Homo sapiens: one gene and its partners. The protein of the gene in region 1 purifies or fractionates together with the protein of each later gene. This does not show direct contact. Each region holds a gene or a part of one and is shown in the gene's direction. Other genes may lie near its edges.

What was found.
Region 2: the proteins of SFSWAP (region 1) and GPATCH11 purify together in Homo sapiens (affinity purification with mass spectrometry; one large-scale study listed by BioGRID and IntAct). This does not show direct contact.
Region 3: the proteins of SFSWAP (region 1) and KSR2 purify together in Homo sapiens (co-immunoprecipitation; one large-scale study listed by IntAct). This does not show direct contact.
Region 4: the proteins of SFSWAP (region 1) and CACNA2D3 purify together in Homo sapiens (affinity purification with mass spectrometry; one large-scale study listed by BioGRID and IntAct). This does not show direct contact.

The regions. Positions count from the first base shown.
Region 1 is NC_000012.12:131,713,753-131,717,689, forward strand, and holds part of SFSWAP (splicing factor, suppressor of white-apricot homolog), read left to right. Parts: exon of another isoform or gene 1-318; coding exon 319-488; intron 489-1,069; coding exon 1,070-1,201; intron 1,202-3,937.
Region 2 is NC_000002.12:37,090,971-37,094,835, forward strand, and holds part of GPATCH11 (G patch domain-containing protein 11), read left to right. Parts: intron 1-945; coding exon 946-1,066; intron 1,067-1,170; coding exon of another isoform or gene 1,171-1,194; coding exon 1,195-1,285; intron 1,286-3,111; coding exon 3,112-3,225; intron 3,226-3,681; exon of another isoform or gene 3,682-3,790; intron 3,791-3,865.
Region 3 is NC_000012.12:117,759,173-117,763,037, reverse strand, and holds part of KSR2 (kinase suppressor of Ras 2), read left to right. Parts: intron 1-1,513; coding exon 1,514-2,027; intron 2,028-3,865. UniProt on the Homo sapiens protein: Location-regulated scaffold connecting MEK to RAF. Has very low protein kinase activity and can phosphorylate MAP2K1 at several Ser and Thr residues with very low efficiency (in vitro).
Region 4 is NC_000003.12:54,129,005-54,132,869, forward strand, and holds part of CACNA2D3 (voltage-dependent calcium channel subunit alpha-2/delta-3 precursor), read left to right. Parts: intron 1-3,865. UniProt on the Homo sapiens protein: The alpha-2/delta subunit of voltage-dependent calcium channels regulates calcium current density and activation/inactivation kinetics of the calcium channel.

The DNA.
Region 1 (3,937 bases):
CCATAATGGTAAGAACTGCCAGTGAAGTGGGTACCATTTTTGCTATTAATGGATTGTTTGCCTTTAGTTATAAATGTTATCTTACTGTGGAAAGGAATTTAGAGTTTGTTAAGATAACTTGAGTTTAAAAGTAGGTGAGATATGACTATCCAAATTAAATATAAATCTGGGAAGAGTTTTTATACTTGTTTTAATATTTTTGTTTATTTTAATCGGTAAGTATGTGTGTGTATATATATATACATATATAAAACATCACACACGCACACCAGTCTAGACGTTAATTTCCTTTTATTGACCAGCTTGTTCACATTACAGATATGATGGACGTGGTCACCTGCATGACCTTTCTGAGTACGATGCTGAGTATTCCACGTGGAACAGAGATTATCAGCTGTCTGAAGAGGAGGCGCGAATAGAGGCCCTGTGTGATGAAGAGAGGTATTTAGCCTTGCATACGGACTTGCTTGAGGAGGAGGCAAGGCAAGGTACTGCTCAAGACAAACTTACTTCAGCAACAAACTTTTTAAAATTTTTAAGTATTTAAAAATTTACTCCCATTCATTTTTTTATACTCACTCTTTCTGATATTATCTTGACAGTACCCAGTGGATTGGAAAAACAGGAGTCTTTGCGTTCTGAGAGGACCTCAGGATAGTTTATATATAGAGCCACAAAGAATTTTCCCAGCTTTTGAGGGCAGACTGGGATTTGAAAAAAACAAAAACCAAACTCTTTAACTGTTCTTCTTTAACAGTATCGTATAAATAAAATTGATGTTCTTGTCTTTGCCGTAACAGTCTTTAATACAGTTCTTAATCCCAAAATTTTCTCAGCAGGAAGAAATTTTCCACAAAAGACGTGTATTCAGCTGTCTGTGGGTAAACATGTACTGACAAAAGTACATAATGATAGATATAAAGTGTGAATTTTTAAAACTATTTTACCTCAAAAGTAGGTTGAAAAAAGTATGTTGTATGCTTTACTGATAGCTACAACTTTAGAAATATATAAAGTTTTTCTCAGTAATTTTCTATTTTTGTTGATAAAATTCTCATTTTTATTCAAGAGGAAGAATACAAGCGATTGAGTGAAGCACTAGCAGAGGATGGGAGCTACAATGCCGTGGGGTTCACTTACGGTAGCGACTATTACGACCCGTCAGAGCCGACGGAGGAGGAGGAGCCTTCCAAACAGAGAGGTGAGTGGGGAGCTGCCTGGACTGCTGGTGTAGGGCTACACGTGTACGCACAGGCTGCATGCACCGTGGTCCAGTCTGCAGAACACATCTCTGGCACTCATGATAGCACCACTATGACCACAGGAGAAAACGGGAGTGATATTCCTTCTTTTGGTAAAACGAAGTTAAAAACTAGAATGATTAATGGAGGTGGAAAGTGAATGCGTTGGATTATTTATTTCTCATTGATTCGGGTAACAGAATTACTCATTCAGGATTATTTGTTTCTAGATTGGTAACATGTTCATTAATATCCTCAGGGATTCATTCTTGAGGCAGTGAAAGAATAGGTGTTAACTGGGATAAGTTAACATCACCGCCCTCTCACTGACCTGCTTCCCCATATCCCTCCACAACTGAGACAGTGACACATGCCCAGTGGAAGGACACAGTGAGGGAGTTTCTACTCCCCAGAAAACAGCACAGCTTCCTGGTAGCCTTGATGCCACCTAGGGCATATACTTACCACAGTATTTTAAATTAAAGATTTGGAATTTATGCTTTTCTGGATTAACATGGGAAACTTTGAATATAAAAAATAGTGCTGCTGAAAAACCTGGGCTCGTGTAGTATAGACACAAATATCCTCAATCACTTCACTAAGCGTCGAGAGCTCCACTACCACAGCGCTGCATCATGGTCAGTCGTTAATTAGCAGTAATGCTAACATGAACCTGACACCTTAAAGACGGGTCAGTATATTCAGGATATTCTGTTTAAAAAGAAGAAGAACATTAACTTAGAAACATTCAAATGTTTACATTACATCAAATGGAGATTTAATTGTAGAGCTAATTTAATCTGTTATTCTGAACTTCATCGGTTTCTCCTTAAGTAACACTTTTTATCTTTTTAAATTTTTTTATTAAAATACACAATAATTTAAAAAAAGAGATGGGGTCTCACTGTGTTGCCCAAGCTAGTCTCAAACTCCTGAGCTCAAGTGATCCTACTGCCTTGGCCTCCCAAAGCACTGGGATTACAGGCATGAGCCACCACATCCAGCCAAGTGACACATCTTTTAACAAGTATGAAGCAATTATAGCACTTTAGTAGTAAAGCAAAATGATGTTTGCCCTTCCATCCTGTGACTGCACTATGGTTCTACCCATCGGCACTCTCCAAGGGCTGCGATCCTAACGGAATGATAGGACGTGGGGCAAACGCACACACCGGCTTTCCTTTTGCCCTGTCTTTAGTCCTGCTCCTTACTTTGTGGGCACAAGAATTACTGTTGCACAGCTCTATTTTATGAGCTTTTAGAGAAACTTTCAAGTGTAATTGTAATTATACTGAGTTAAAGGCCAGTTAAGGTATTTAAGACTTTTTGCATTGACTTTCAAACCTACCCATCCCTCAGAAGTTACGATGCACTAGAAATGTTCTATCAGGTCTAAAACGTAAACACCCATTTATTTATCCAGAATAAGCTCTCCTTCCTCGGGTTCTGGATAGTTCTGATTTTGTTGTCTTATCTCTAAGCCACACACATGAGTTCAGCTTTCTATCTGTGGTGTTTTTATCAGAAGGAAGGAATAGATACTATAGCCACTTCACAAATAAAGAGTTGAAATACAGTCAGCTTATTGGGTCCACATCTGTGGATTCAACCAACCACAGATCTAAAGTATTGGAAAGAAAATAACAAAGTTTTATTGGAACACAGCAATGCTCATTTGTTTACATATTGTCTGTTGCCACTTTCGCACTTCAGCAACAGAGTTGAAGAAATGAAACACCATATGGCCCACAAAACCAGAAATATTTATTAATACTGTCTGGCATTTTATAGAGTTTGTCAGCCCCTATTCTAGATGATGGACCATTGTCTCGGCGTAATTATTGGGCTAAATGATGTTCAGTTTGTTATAATTATTGAATCTTGAGAACTTCAGCATGACTTAGCTTATCATCTGAGTATTAGTTTGCTTTCCCCTTAAGATAAAGTTCTCTTTAGTATTTTACAATGTTACTTCTTTTCTTTCTGTAATCGTGTTCTCAGAACATTGCCTTATATACTGATTAATTTCGTTAATGGAAATTGGGCCCACATAAAACTTAGAGCTTGACATTTCGTGTTTAACTTGCATTAATATAAGTGAAACACCTAACACACACACACACATACGTGCATATTGTAATAGAATCCAGTACCACTAACAGCCCCATTGAGCGTCACATTCTGTTAAAATAAAATTTTTTTTCCTGAGCCATCAATATGTCTACGTATGTCTTGATTTTCAAAATTACTGTATTGTATTGTTTGTTAGTATTTTAAAGCCTTGTGATACTAGCCAAAAGCATTTTGATGGTGCCTCCATCTCTGATCTTTACTATTTTCAGTCAAGTTTTTATCCTTTAGATGTTCATAATTTTTCATCATTATTCTATATCCATTTTTTTCCCTCTTTTTTAGGGGAATAATGGGGCGGGGACAGGCCCTCACTGCTATATATCCATTTTTTAAACAAAAGGTTATTTGAATTTATTTAAATCTGAGTTTGTAGTGCAATGGTTGGTTTTTATTTTGTGCTACTAAAGCTGTTTTTTTGTAAATAAAGGTATATATAAGAATAGACCAAATCTGTTTAACCCATCAATCCCAAAAAGCTATTTCAATTAAAATGCCTTGATTTTTATGAATAACTTAACATTAAGGAGAAGCTATTTGCCTAGACAATGTTTTAATCATTTTTT
Region 2 (3,865 bases), on another chromosome or scaffold:
GTCCATTGAAATGTCTTAAAACTGTTTTGCTCTGGGAGGCCGATGCAGAAGGATTGCTTAAAGCCAAGAGTTGGCCGGGCGTGGTGGCTCACACCTGTAATCCCAGCACTTTGGGTGGCCGAGGCAGGCAGATCACCTGAGGTTGGGAGTTCAAGACCAGCCTGACCAACATGGAGAAACCCCATCTCTACTAAAAATACAGAATTAGCCGGGCATGGTGGTGCATGCCTGTAATCCCAGCTACTTGGGAGGCTGAGGCAGGAGAATCGCTTGAACCCAGGAGGCAGAGATTGCAGTGAGCTAAGATTGCGCCATTGCACTCCAGCCTGGGCAACAAGAGTGAAATTCCATCTCAAGGAAAAAAAAAAAAAAGCAGCCAGGAATTTGAGACCAGCCTGGGCAACATAGCAAGACCTCATCTCTGCAAAAAATTTAAAAAATTAACCGGGTGTAGTGGCACGCACCTGTAGTCCTTGCTATTCAGGAGGCTGAGGCGGGACGATTCCTGGAGCCCACAAGTTCGAGGTTACAGTGAGCCATGATTGTGCCACTACATACCAGCCTGTCCCTATAAAAATAAAATAAAATAAAAGTGTTCTGAGACAGATTTATCTACCAAATGTTTTGCTTAATACTTGGATGAATTCAAGAGAAAAAGATATATTTTATTCATATTTAAATAAAACTATAACAGCTAATACTGTTTTTCTGATTTGAAAAATTGTTTATAATATTACTATAAGATGAGATTAACAATCTTTGTAAAAATCAGATTATGTTTTGGGCTTAAAAAAAACCCTAGTGTTTTCTACTATTAGTGTACTCAAATGATTTGTGAGTGATAGTACTCAAATGAGAATTGCATTTAATTTGTACATAGTTAAATCGTCTTGTTTTGAAGCACAAAGTCAGGATGTTTCTCATCAGAATTTTCTGTTTGAATAGGGAAAAGTGGCATTGGTCATGAGGCATCATTAAAACGGAAAGCAGAGGAAAAATTGGAAAGCTACAGAAAAAAGATTCACATGAAAAACCAAGCTGAAGAAAAAGCTGCAGAACAGTTTCGGTAAAACTATTTTTGAGCTGGTTTTGGTTCTATTTCCTCTTTATTGTGGTATGTTCTCTGGTACTTGGGCATATAAAATGGTTAAAGATAACGTAGACCTTTAGTTTACAATTTTTTCTTTCAATTAGAATGCGACTTAAAAATAAGCAAGATGAAATGAAGCTAGAAGGAGATCTCAGAAGAAGCCAGCGAGCCTGTCAACAACTGGATGTCCAGAAAGTAAGCCTTTTACCAGCTTTCAGTTTAGTAAAGTGTTTTGGCACCCCCTGTGATTTCCCGTTTATTTATTATATATATATATATTTTATATATGTATTATATATATTTATATATGTATTATATGTTTATATATGTATTACATATATTTATATGTATCATATATATTTATATATTTTTTACATATGTCTTATATATTATATATATTTTATGTATTTATATATATAATATATATATTATATATATATATAAAACTAAGAACTCCAAGCCCGGTTTATCTACTCATTAAAGCTTTCATGTAATGTGCACTTCTGATCTGTGACAATTGATATAAAAATGGCTTATTATTTACTATAGTAACCTGAGTTGTCTGGGTTACTATAAAACCCAGGGTTTTATAGTAACTATAGTTTTATAGTTTTATACTAACTATAGTAAAACAAAAAGGGTTAAATAAAATTTTACATTTAATTGTTCTCTGCTTATTTGAATATCAGTTATGACTATTATGTGCAGAAATTCTGTTCTTTATAATATTTGATTAACAAGAATAGCCTATTTTCAGTTCCTATTCAGTATCTAATATATGTCTAACTATTAAAATCAGAGTGGGCCAGGCATGATGGCTCAATCCTGTAATCCTAGCACTTTGGGAGGCAAAGGCAGGATGATTATTTCAGCCCAGGAGTTCGAGACCAGCCTGGATAACATTTCAAGACTCCATCTCTACAAAACATCTTAAAATTAGCTGCATGTGGTGGCACACACCTGTAGTCCTATCTACTCAGGAGGCTGAAGTGGGAGAATCACTTGAGCCCAGAAGGTTGAGGTTGCATTGAGCTATGTTCATGCCACTGCACTCCAGCCTGGGTGACAGAGTGAGACCCTGTCTCAAAAATAAAATCAAGGTGGAATGCTATCTAGTTCAAATTTGAATAGTTTTTAAAAAATTCTGTCTCTGGCTGGGCATGGTGGCTCATGTCTGTAATCTCAGCACTTTGAGAGGACGAGGCTGCAGGATTGCTTGAGTCCAGGAGTTTGTGACCAGCCTGGACAACATAGCAAGTCCCCAGCTCTACAAAAAAAATAAATAAGTAAATAAATTCTGTCTTTGCTTTTATCTTAGTGGTTCAAGTACTCTGAAAATAAAATGACTTCATTTGAAGTCTCAAAAAGCTTTGTAAAATTTCCCTTATATATAGATTACTGGAAGCAATCTCTCACTTTCCTGTTCTTACATATTACTTTACTTTGAATGTATTTCATGGCACTTATGATTTTGTAGCATATATGTATTATTTTGTACCCATAGCCTATCTTTCCTGCTAGACTGTCAGAAGGAACTTAAAGACAACTGCACAATTCTAAAGAATTGGACTTTGCATCCCCATAGTTCATGGTACAATGTTTTCACTTTTTTTTTGAGATGGAGTCTCACTCTGTCACCAGGCTAGAGTACAGTGGCGTGATTTTGGCTCACTGCAACCTCCACCTCCTGGGTTCAAGCAATTCTCCTGCCTCGGCCTCCTGAGTAGCTGGGACGACAGGCATGCACTACCACGCCCAGCTAATTTTTGTATTTTTAGTAGAGATGGGGTTTCACCATGTTGGTCAGGATGATCTTGATCTCTTGACCTCGTGATCCACCCACCTCTCCCTCCCAAAGTGCTGGGATTGCAGGCGTGAGCCACCGTGCCCGGCCAGTGTTTTTACTCTTAAAGCCACACTCAGTGAATACGTATTGAAAGAATGAATTCATGTTGACATGAACATATTTGTCATGCTCTTATGTTTAGTATGTTTAATTGAGACTACTTCTGCATTTTCAGAATATTCAGGTTCCCAGGGAAGCATGGTACTGGTTGAGGCTTGAAGAGGAGACTGAAGAAGATGAAGAAGAAAAAGAACAGGATGAAGATGAATATAAGAGTGAAGATTTAAGCGTATGCTTTGCACCATTTCCTTCATAGGGTGTCTCAGCCTTGGCAACATTAGCACTTTGAGTTGTGGTAATCCGTTGTTGTGGAGAGCTGTCCTGTGCATTGCAAGATGTTTAGCAGCATCTCTGGCCCCTGCCCACCAGATACCAGTTGCACTTTTGCTTATGACAACCAAAACCCTCTCCAGACATTGCTAAATGTCCCCGAGGGGAAAAATAACCCCTGGTTGAGAGGTACTGCATTGCAGGATTACTTTACTAACCCCAAATCAAAACTTACATATAATTTTTCCCTTTAGCTTCCATTTGTCCTCTCATCTCAGCTTCAGTTTGGATGATGAATTAGCAACAAATGTAAATTATTTTAATTTATACCTTATTTCCTGCAAAACTTCTACAAGTCATTCTAATGTGTACTTTTTTCTCCTACTTATAAACAACAAAAAAACACAATCAAAAGAAAATGGAGGCCGGGCATGGTGGCTCACACCTGTAATCCAAACACTTTGGGAGACCAAAACTGGTGGATCACTTGAGGTCAGGAGTTTAAGACCAGCCTGGCCAACATGGTAGTGTATTTTAGTCTCTACTAAAAATACAAAAATTAGCCAGGTGTGGGGCACCCAATAATCCTAGCTACTCAG
Region 3 (3,865 bases), about 14 Mb from region 1:
GGGAGGGATAGCATTAGGAGATATACCTAATGTTAAATGACGAGTTAATGAGTGCAGCACACCAACATGGCACATGTATGCATATGTAACTAACCTGCACATTGTGCACATGTACCCTAAAACTTAAAGTATAATAATAATAAAATAAAAAAAAGGTTTTTTTTTTTTTGAGACTGAGTTTCACTCTTGTTGCCCAGGCTGGAGTGCAATGGTGCGATCTCAGCTCACTGCAACCTCTGCCTCCTGGGTTCAAGCGATTCTTATTGCCTCAGCCTTCTGAGTAGCTGGGATTACAGGCACACGCCACCACACCTAGCTAATTTTTTTGTATTTTTAGTAGAGATGGAGTTTCACCATGTTGGCCAGGCTGGTCTCAAACTCGTGACCTCAAGTAATCTGCCCATCTCGGCCTCCCAATTGCTGGAACTACAGGTGTGAGCCTCCGTGCCCAGCTGCCCATATTCTTTTTATCACGTCATTCTGTTTATTTCCCTCCCAGCACCAATAACCATGTGAAATCCTTCTGTGAGCATGTTTTCTTGTCTATCATGGCTGCTTTGGCAGAATGTAAGTCCAGGGGACCAGGGTCTCATCTGTGTTGCTTTTGTGTCTTTTCCAAGCAAAGGGCATAGTTGGCACTCACAGGATGTTTACTGGACAAATGCATGAATAAGAACATGGCGACACAGATCTGGAGGAAGTATGCGGTGGCTGAGGAAGTGGTCAGGGAGGGACTAAGGATGAACTTGACTTCCTTGGAATTTGTGTATCTCACATGAGGGTTAGGTATTAAAATTTCCATGTAAGGGAAAAGTTATCCTTTAAAGTCCTTTAAATCACTTTGAAACTACCAGAACTGGGACCTTGGGAAGTTCAAAAAGTGAGAATTAACTTCTTTGCTTTTCTGAGCATTTGGGCTGTGGGGTCTTCCCAGCTATGGGGCAGTGGAAGGCAAGGCTGTTGAATGGAGAATAGGGTAACAGGGTCAACAAGGGGATTTTATTGTCTTTTTGGAGGAGCCAAGTAGAGATGGTTGGCTTTATGTAAATGTACTTATGATGTAATGTGGGTATGATGTAACATGCATTTGATAGAATGTCTGTAAGAGGTAATGGGCATATGAAATAGCATGCATATGATGTAATGCACATATAATGTGACATGCATATGGTGTAATGTGCATATGATATGTGCATATAACATGCATACAACATAACAGATATATAGTGTAACATGCATATGATATGATGTGCATATGATATAACATGCATACGATGTAACAGGTATATAGTGTAACATGCATATGATGTAATGGGCACATGGTATAATGTGCATAAGATATAATTTGCATATGAGATAACATGCATACGATGTAACAGGTATATAGTGTAACATGCACATGATGTAATGGGCACGTGGTGTAATGTGTGTATGATGTAATGGTGTGTATGGTGTAACTCACCTGGCTTTCTCATGGCTTACCCATTGTCTCTGCTCTTCTGTTCCAACTCAGGAGGCAACCTTTCCAAACAAGACTGGACCATCCAGTGGCCCACGACAGAGACGGGGAAGGAGAACAATCCCGTGTGCCCCCCGGAGCCCACCCCGTGGATCCGCACCCATCTCTCCCAGAGCCCCAGGGTCCCGTCCAAGTGCGTCCAGCACTATTGTCACACCAGCCCCACTCCCGGGGCCCCTGTGTACACCCACGTGGACAGGCTTACCGTGGACGCCTACCCGGGCTTGTGCCCGCCCCCGCCACTGGAGTCGGGCCACCGTTCCCTGCCCCCATCGCCCCGGCAGCGGCACGCGGTCCGCACCCCGCCGCGCACCCCCAACATCGTCACCACCGTGACCCCGCCGGGCACGCCGCCCATGAGGAAGAAGAACAAGCTGAAGCCCCCGGGGACCCCACCGCCCTCCTCCCGAAAACTGATACACTTGATCCCGGGATTCACCGCGCTGCATCGGAGCAAATCCCACGAGTTCCAGCTGGGGCACCGCGTGGACGAGGCCCACACGCCCAAGTGAGTGCGATCGGTGGGTGCCCTGGGGCGGTCGAAACCCGGCCTGCGAGGGGCTGCCCCTTGGTCCCAGGAACTGCCCAGGTCAAGGAAACCGGGAACAGACTTGCGTTCCAGACTCTGGTTGAATGAAAAATGGCTTTTCACAGAGGGTTCTGAGCAAATGAATAGAACAGAATTTCCCAGAATTGGCCGTTTAAAAAATACGATTAATATCCTATGGCCTAGGGGCTAAATCTGATACCCGGCCTGATTTTGTAAATAAAAGGTATTGGAACACGCCCATGATCATTCCTTTATGTGTTGCCTATGGCTGCTTTTGTGTGACAATGGCAGAGTGAGAATAGCCCACAAAGCTGAAAGTATTTACCATCTGGCTTTTTACTGAAAACGTTTGCCAACCCCTGCAGAGTCTAGCCTAGTGCCGCTCCTAGAAATAGGATATGAGGCATATATTAACCTTCAACTTTCTAGTAGTCACATTAAAAAGAATGAAAAGGAACAAGTGATATTAATGATCATAATACATCATTCAACCCAATATATCAAAATTATAATATCTTAACAAAGAATCAATGTAAAATATCATTACAGAGATATTTTGCATTTTTTAAAATACAAAGTCTTTGAAATTGAATGTGTATTTTATATCCACGGCTCATCTCAGTTGAAGGTGGTAGGAAGCAGGACACGTTGGGGAAATTGACAGAGGACCCCTTTGGGGGAGAGAGCAGGTGTGTGATGTAGGGTGAGACTCGAGGATTAGGCAGGTTGCTGTGCTATTCACAGTAGCCAAAAAGTAGAAACAACCTGTGTCCATCAGTAGACAAATGAGTAAACACAGTGTGGTCTATCTATACAATGCAATATTATTCAGGCTTAAAAAGGAAGAAACTTCTTTTTTTTTGAGACGGAGTCTAGCTCTGTTGCCCAGGCTGGAGCAGTGGTGGGATGTCAGCTCACTGCAACCTCTGCCTCCCAGGTTCAAGTGATTCTCCTGCCTCAGCCTCCCAAGTAGCTGGGACTACAGGCCTGTGCCACCACGCCTGGCTAATTTTTTGTAGTTTTTGTAGAGATAGGGTTTCACCATGTTGACCAGACTGGTCTTGAACTTCTGACCTCAAATGATCTGCCCGCCTTGGCCTCCCAAAGTGCTGGGATTACAGGCATGAGCCATCATGCCCGACCTGGGAGGAACTTCTGATATATGCTACAACATGAGTGAACCTTGAAGACAGCATGCTAAGAGTAAAATATGCCAGACACATAATGACAAATACTGTATAATTCCACCAATATGAGATACCTAGAGTAGACAATTTATAGAGGCAGAAAGTAGAACGGTGGATGCCAGGGCTGAGGGGAGGGAGAATGGGGAGTTGTTATTTATTGGATATAGACTTTGCATTTGGGATGATGAAAACATTCTGGAGATGGATGGTGGTGATGGTTGTACAACAATGCAAATGTAATTAGTACCATTGAACTGTACACTTCAAAATGGTTAAGATGGTAAATTTTATATTATGTATATTTTATCACCATTTTAAAAAGGCAGGATTCTGTAAGTGAAGGGTTGGCACACTTTTTCTGTACAGGGGCAGATAGTAAATACTTTAGGCTTTGCAGACCATTCAGTCTCTGTTGCAGTTACTCAACTCTATCATGTAGCACAAAACCAGCACAGACAATAGGTAAACAAATGGGCATGGCAGTGTTCCAATAAAACTTTATTTATAAAAACAGGTACCTGGCCCAATTTGGCCCATGAACTGTGATTTACCAAGCCCTGTCTGAAGCCGTAGTGTAGAGAGTGATCTCTTTTCTGAAGCATTGGGAAT
Region 4 (3,865 bases), on another chromosome or scaffold:
ATCCTTATCAGCCCTCTTTGGTCCATTAAACAAAATTTTGCTTCTCCTTTACAGGAAGAAAATGATATGAGGAAGAGGAGGATGCTTGATTTTTTGTGATTTTCCTAAATATTTAGTGACCAACAGACTCTGTCTGAAGTGGTTGTTCTATAATGTAAAACCAGACTCTAAGCCCCTTCGACAGCCCAGTACTTTGGCCTGTACTTACAGCTCACCCTTGGCAGATTAGGTATTTGTATAGCTGATGTGTTTTAGGGGATTTCTGTGTGCATAGCCAGCACGTCTACTTTTCAGAAGGGAATTATTTTTTACAAATACATACTTGAAAATAGTCCAGTTCATTTCTAATAAATGGTAAACATTTCAACTTCCATTTGCTTTGAACAACACTCATTGGGTGCTCATTCCAAGGCTGTTTAAGGCACTAAATTTATAACATGTATTAAATTTATATGTTGCATAGCTTCCCAGTTACCCCAAATCAACATTATGAAAATAAACAACTCAGAAACCAAACTATTGGCGCACATTTCAAGGCCATATTGGAAAGGAAAGCATTATCTTTTCACAAGAAATGGATGGCTGTTCCTTCACTTTGTGCACTTCAGAGTATTTATCTTGGCACCTGTTAATGGAAAACAGTACCCTCCCAAGGTTAAAAGGACTGTTATGCATGTAAATGATCTGGACAGGCAAGGTGGGTAAGGCTATAAATGCTGTGGGTTCACAAAACAGACCTCGAGTTTTCCATTTTAGGTGAAACAACTGCCAGTTGATATTTGGGGCCTGCACATGCCATTACCGTAATACTTATTAAGTGTGTGTATGTGTGCGTGCCTGTGCCAATAAAAATGGATGCTGCTCATCACAGAACGTGCCAGATAATGCTTGCTGATGGGGAAGACTGTTCTTGTCCTCTTGGATGTTAGAGAGGCTGACTTGAGAGAATGAACCAGGGCAGTAGGACAGAACTGAGTCACGCCAGTCCAACAGGCATGGATTTGTTCAGCGTCTGGAATTTTGTAGGCAGTTGAATCTGAGGACTTGCTGAGATCAGAACTGGCTATGTAATTTGTGGTCCTCAGTGCAAAATGCAGAATCCCTTGTTAAAAAATTATTAAGAATTCCAGGATGTGGCAGCAGAGCCTCAGACCAACTGCGGGGCCCTGGCTAAGCCTCCTGTGGGACAGGCTGTCCTCGTTTTGGCTTTCTCTCTTTCCTGCTGGATAGCTTACCCTCTCAGCTCCATTCAGTCTAGGAGGCTTCCTTTGCCCACCTTTGTTCCATCTCCAATGAAATCATTTTCTTATTTTATGAGTAACAGGTCAAGAGCTTGGAGCATTTTCAAAGATTCACATCTTTGGAGATGCTGTGTTGTTAAAGGAAGGGTCATTGGCCTTAAGCAGTGGCATCTCTCTTTTTATCTTTTCTGTGTGCATTTCCACCGTGGCCCTGGGCAAATTGCTTAATCTAATAGTAAAAACAGGTAACGCTCAATGCTGTAGTTTCTGCATTCCAGGTACTGTGATAAGCCCTTTACTTATGACATCCCATTAAATTCTCCCAGCAACCTAATGAGGTAGGGACTACCATTCACCCCATTTTACAGATTGCGAAGCTGAGGCTGGCAGAACTGAAGCAGCCTCCCCAAGGTGACTGAGCAGGGTCTACACATCTGGCCACAGTGCTATATTTTCTTGTCTTTGCGTGATCCTTTCTGACCTTAGTTCCTATTTGAAAAGAATGTGCATAATACCTGAATTTTCGATCTCACAGGTGTTTGGGAGGATTAAATGAGAAACATCTGGGATATTAATTCAGAAACAATTAAAGCCTGGGTTAACAGCTGAGAGGGCATAGCCTTGGAGTCAGATGGGCTTGGATTTGAGTCCCAGATCTGACATTTCCTCTTCAGCGTTGCCTTGTAGTTTAACATTTCTGAACCTATACCCTTAAATGAGAAAGGAGACCAGTACCTTCTATCTTATAGGCTGTGATGAAGGTTAAATGAAATAAAATATGCAAAGCACTTAGCACTGTGCCTGGCACATTGGCTCCTGCCAGTGAGTTGTTGTTGTCATTCCTAGTTGCAATATACAAATACAAGCTCTTCAGGTAATCTTCATTGAGCTTCTGTGGGGCCTGGCTGCATACATACATGTGTACTTGGTGAATGAGCAAGTGCATGAATGGGTGAGTGCCAGGCATTGGCATGTAGGCAGATGATCCCCAGCTGACCCCTGATGAGAGCACTTCAGAGCAGGAGGAAGGCTGCAGTGGCGGCGGCCTCTGTCAAGATATGCACCCTTCCCCTAGAGATCAGCTCCCTTCTCCCTGAGCATGGGGGGAGATGCCCAGAGAAGCCCATCACCCAAGGAATTGGGGTTGCCACATCTGCCCCACAGCCCAGAGTGAGGTCCTTATGCCACAGGAGATCCCAGCATACCCAGCCATTTCCCTTGCTGTGGGAGCTTGTTCAGAAGCCAGCTGCAGATAACCTCTAATCCCGATGCCCCCTTGGGCAGCATTTCAGTTGTTTAGGACGATATGTGGCACCTGGGAAGCCTTGGTTCTCAGGCCATCCTCTCACTTATACTGTCCCACTTCATTATTCATGAACAAGAGAGACTTGGAATTTTTGTCACTTTGATCCCATAATTAGTTCATAAAATTAAGGCAGTGTATGTTATGCACATTTAGTGTGGCAGGGGCACAATGACAAATGCATTTATTATGTCCCTAGGGAGGTGGATTTTTTTTTTTGCTTTCTTTCCAAAATCCTCCTAATCTTGTCCTTTGCACAGCAGAAGTGGGCAGCTGTAAGACTAAAATTTGCTGTTGCTGTAACATTGTGCTATAATTTGCGAAGCAAGGTGAAAGTTGGAAATATAGGGCAGGTGTTTGACTCTTTGTACATGTGCCATCCATAACGCCTTTTCCATTGTATTGTTTGAGGCAGAGGTGGAACAATATTGTAAAAAGAACAATAGATGTGGGAGACAGTAAATTTACTGGATTCAGGTAATCTACAGTCGCGAGTCATAACATCCAGCTTTACGCTCAGCCTCCTACTGGTTTTCATTATTAGTGAAATGTCTGTTAGTGCAATATGACTGCGTCATGTACAAACAGCTCAATGGGCATAGGCTTTTGCCCCACTGACATAATAATAGTCATTTGACTTCTGGAATGCTAATGCTACGTTTGGATATTCTTTCCTCTTGACTTTGGCCTAGGTCCCTGTTGGAATGCTATTGTCATTTGCTTTTATAATACGAAATTCGCACACCAACTCAGACAACACACTTCAGACAAATCATTATCTGGCAACCAATAAAGGGTGTTTGTGTGCGGGTGTATGTGTTTTATATACATGGGTTGTTTTCCTTTGTTAGTAAATACTGGTAACTAATTTAAAATTCCAGAGTGTGTGGCCAAGTTCGAGTATTTCAGAACATCAGGAGCCACCTGGTCGCCCTGAAGTAAGATGTAATCCTCTCAGGAGAGGGCTCACAGCTCACTAATCTTTTGAAAAAGTCAACAGTATACATTTCCTGGAACGGGAATTTCAGAATTATAGAGCCATAGCTGGATTTTCTACTTGAACAGCGAGGTTTTCAGTTTTTTTGCTTGAAACAAATGCTTTATGAATGATAGGAAAAAAATATGTATACTTAGAAAGAAATCAGAGGATTGACTTTTAAAAATCTACTTTTAAGAGAGGTGGCTGGTCTTGGGAAGGCAGAACTGTGTAGAGTTGAGAGTCTGAATCTGAGTGACGACAATCTGGGTTTGAATCGAGATGCTACTGCTGACTGGTCATATGACCCTGACAAGTCAGTTGCTGAGCCTCAGTGTTCGCACC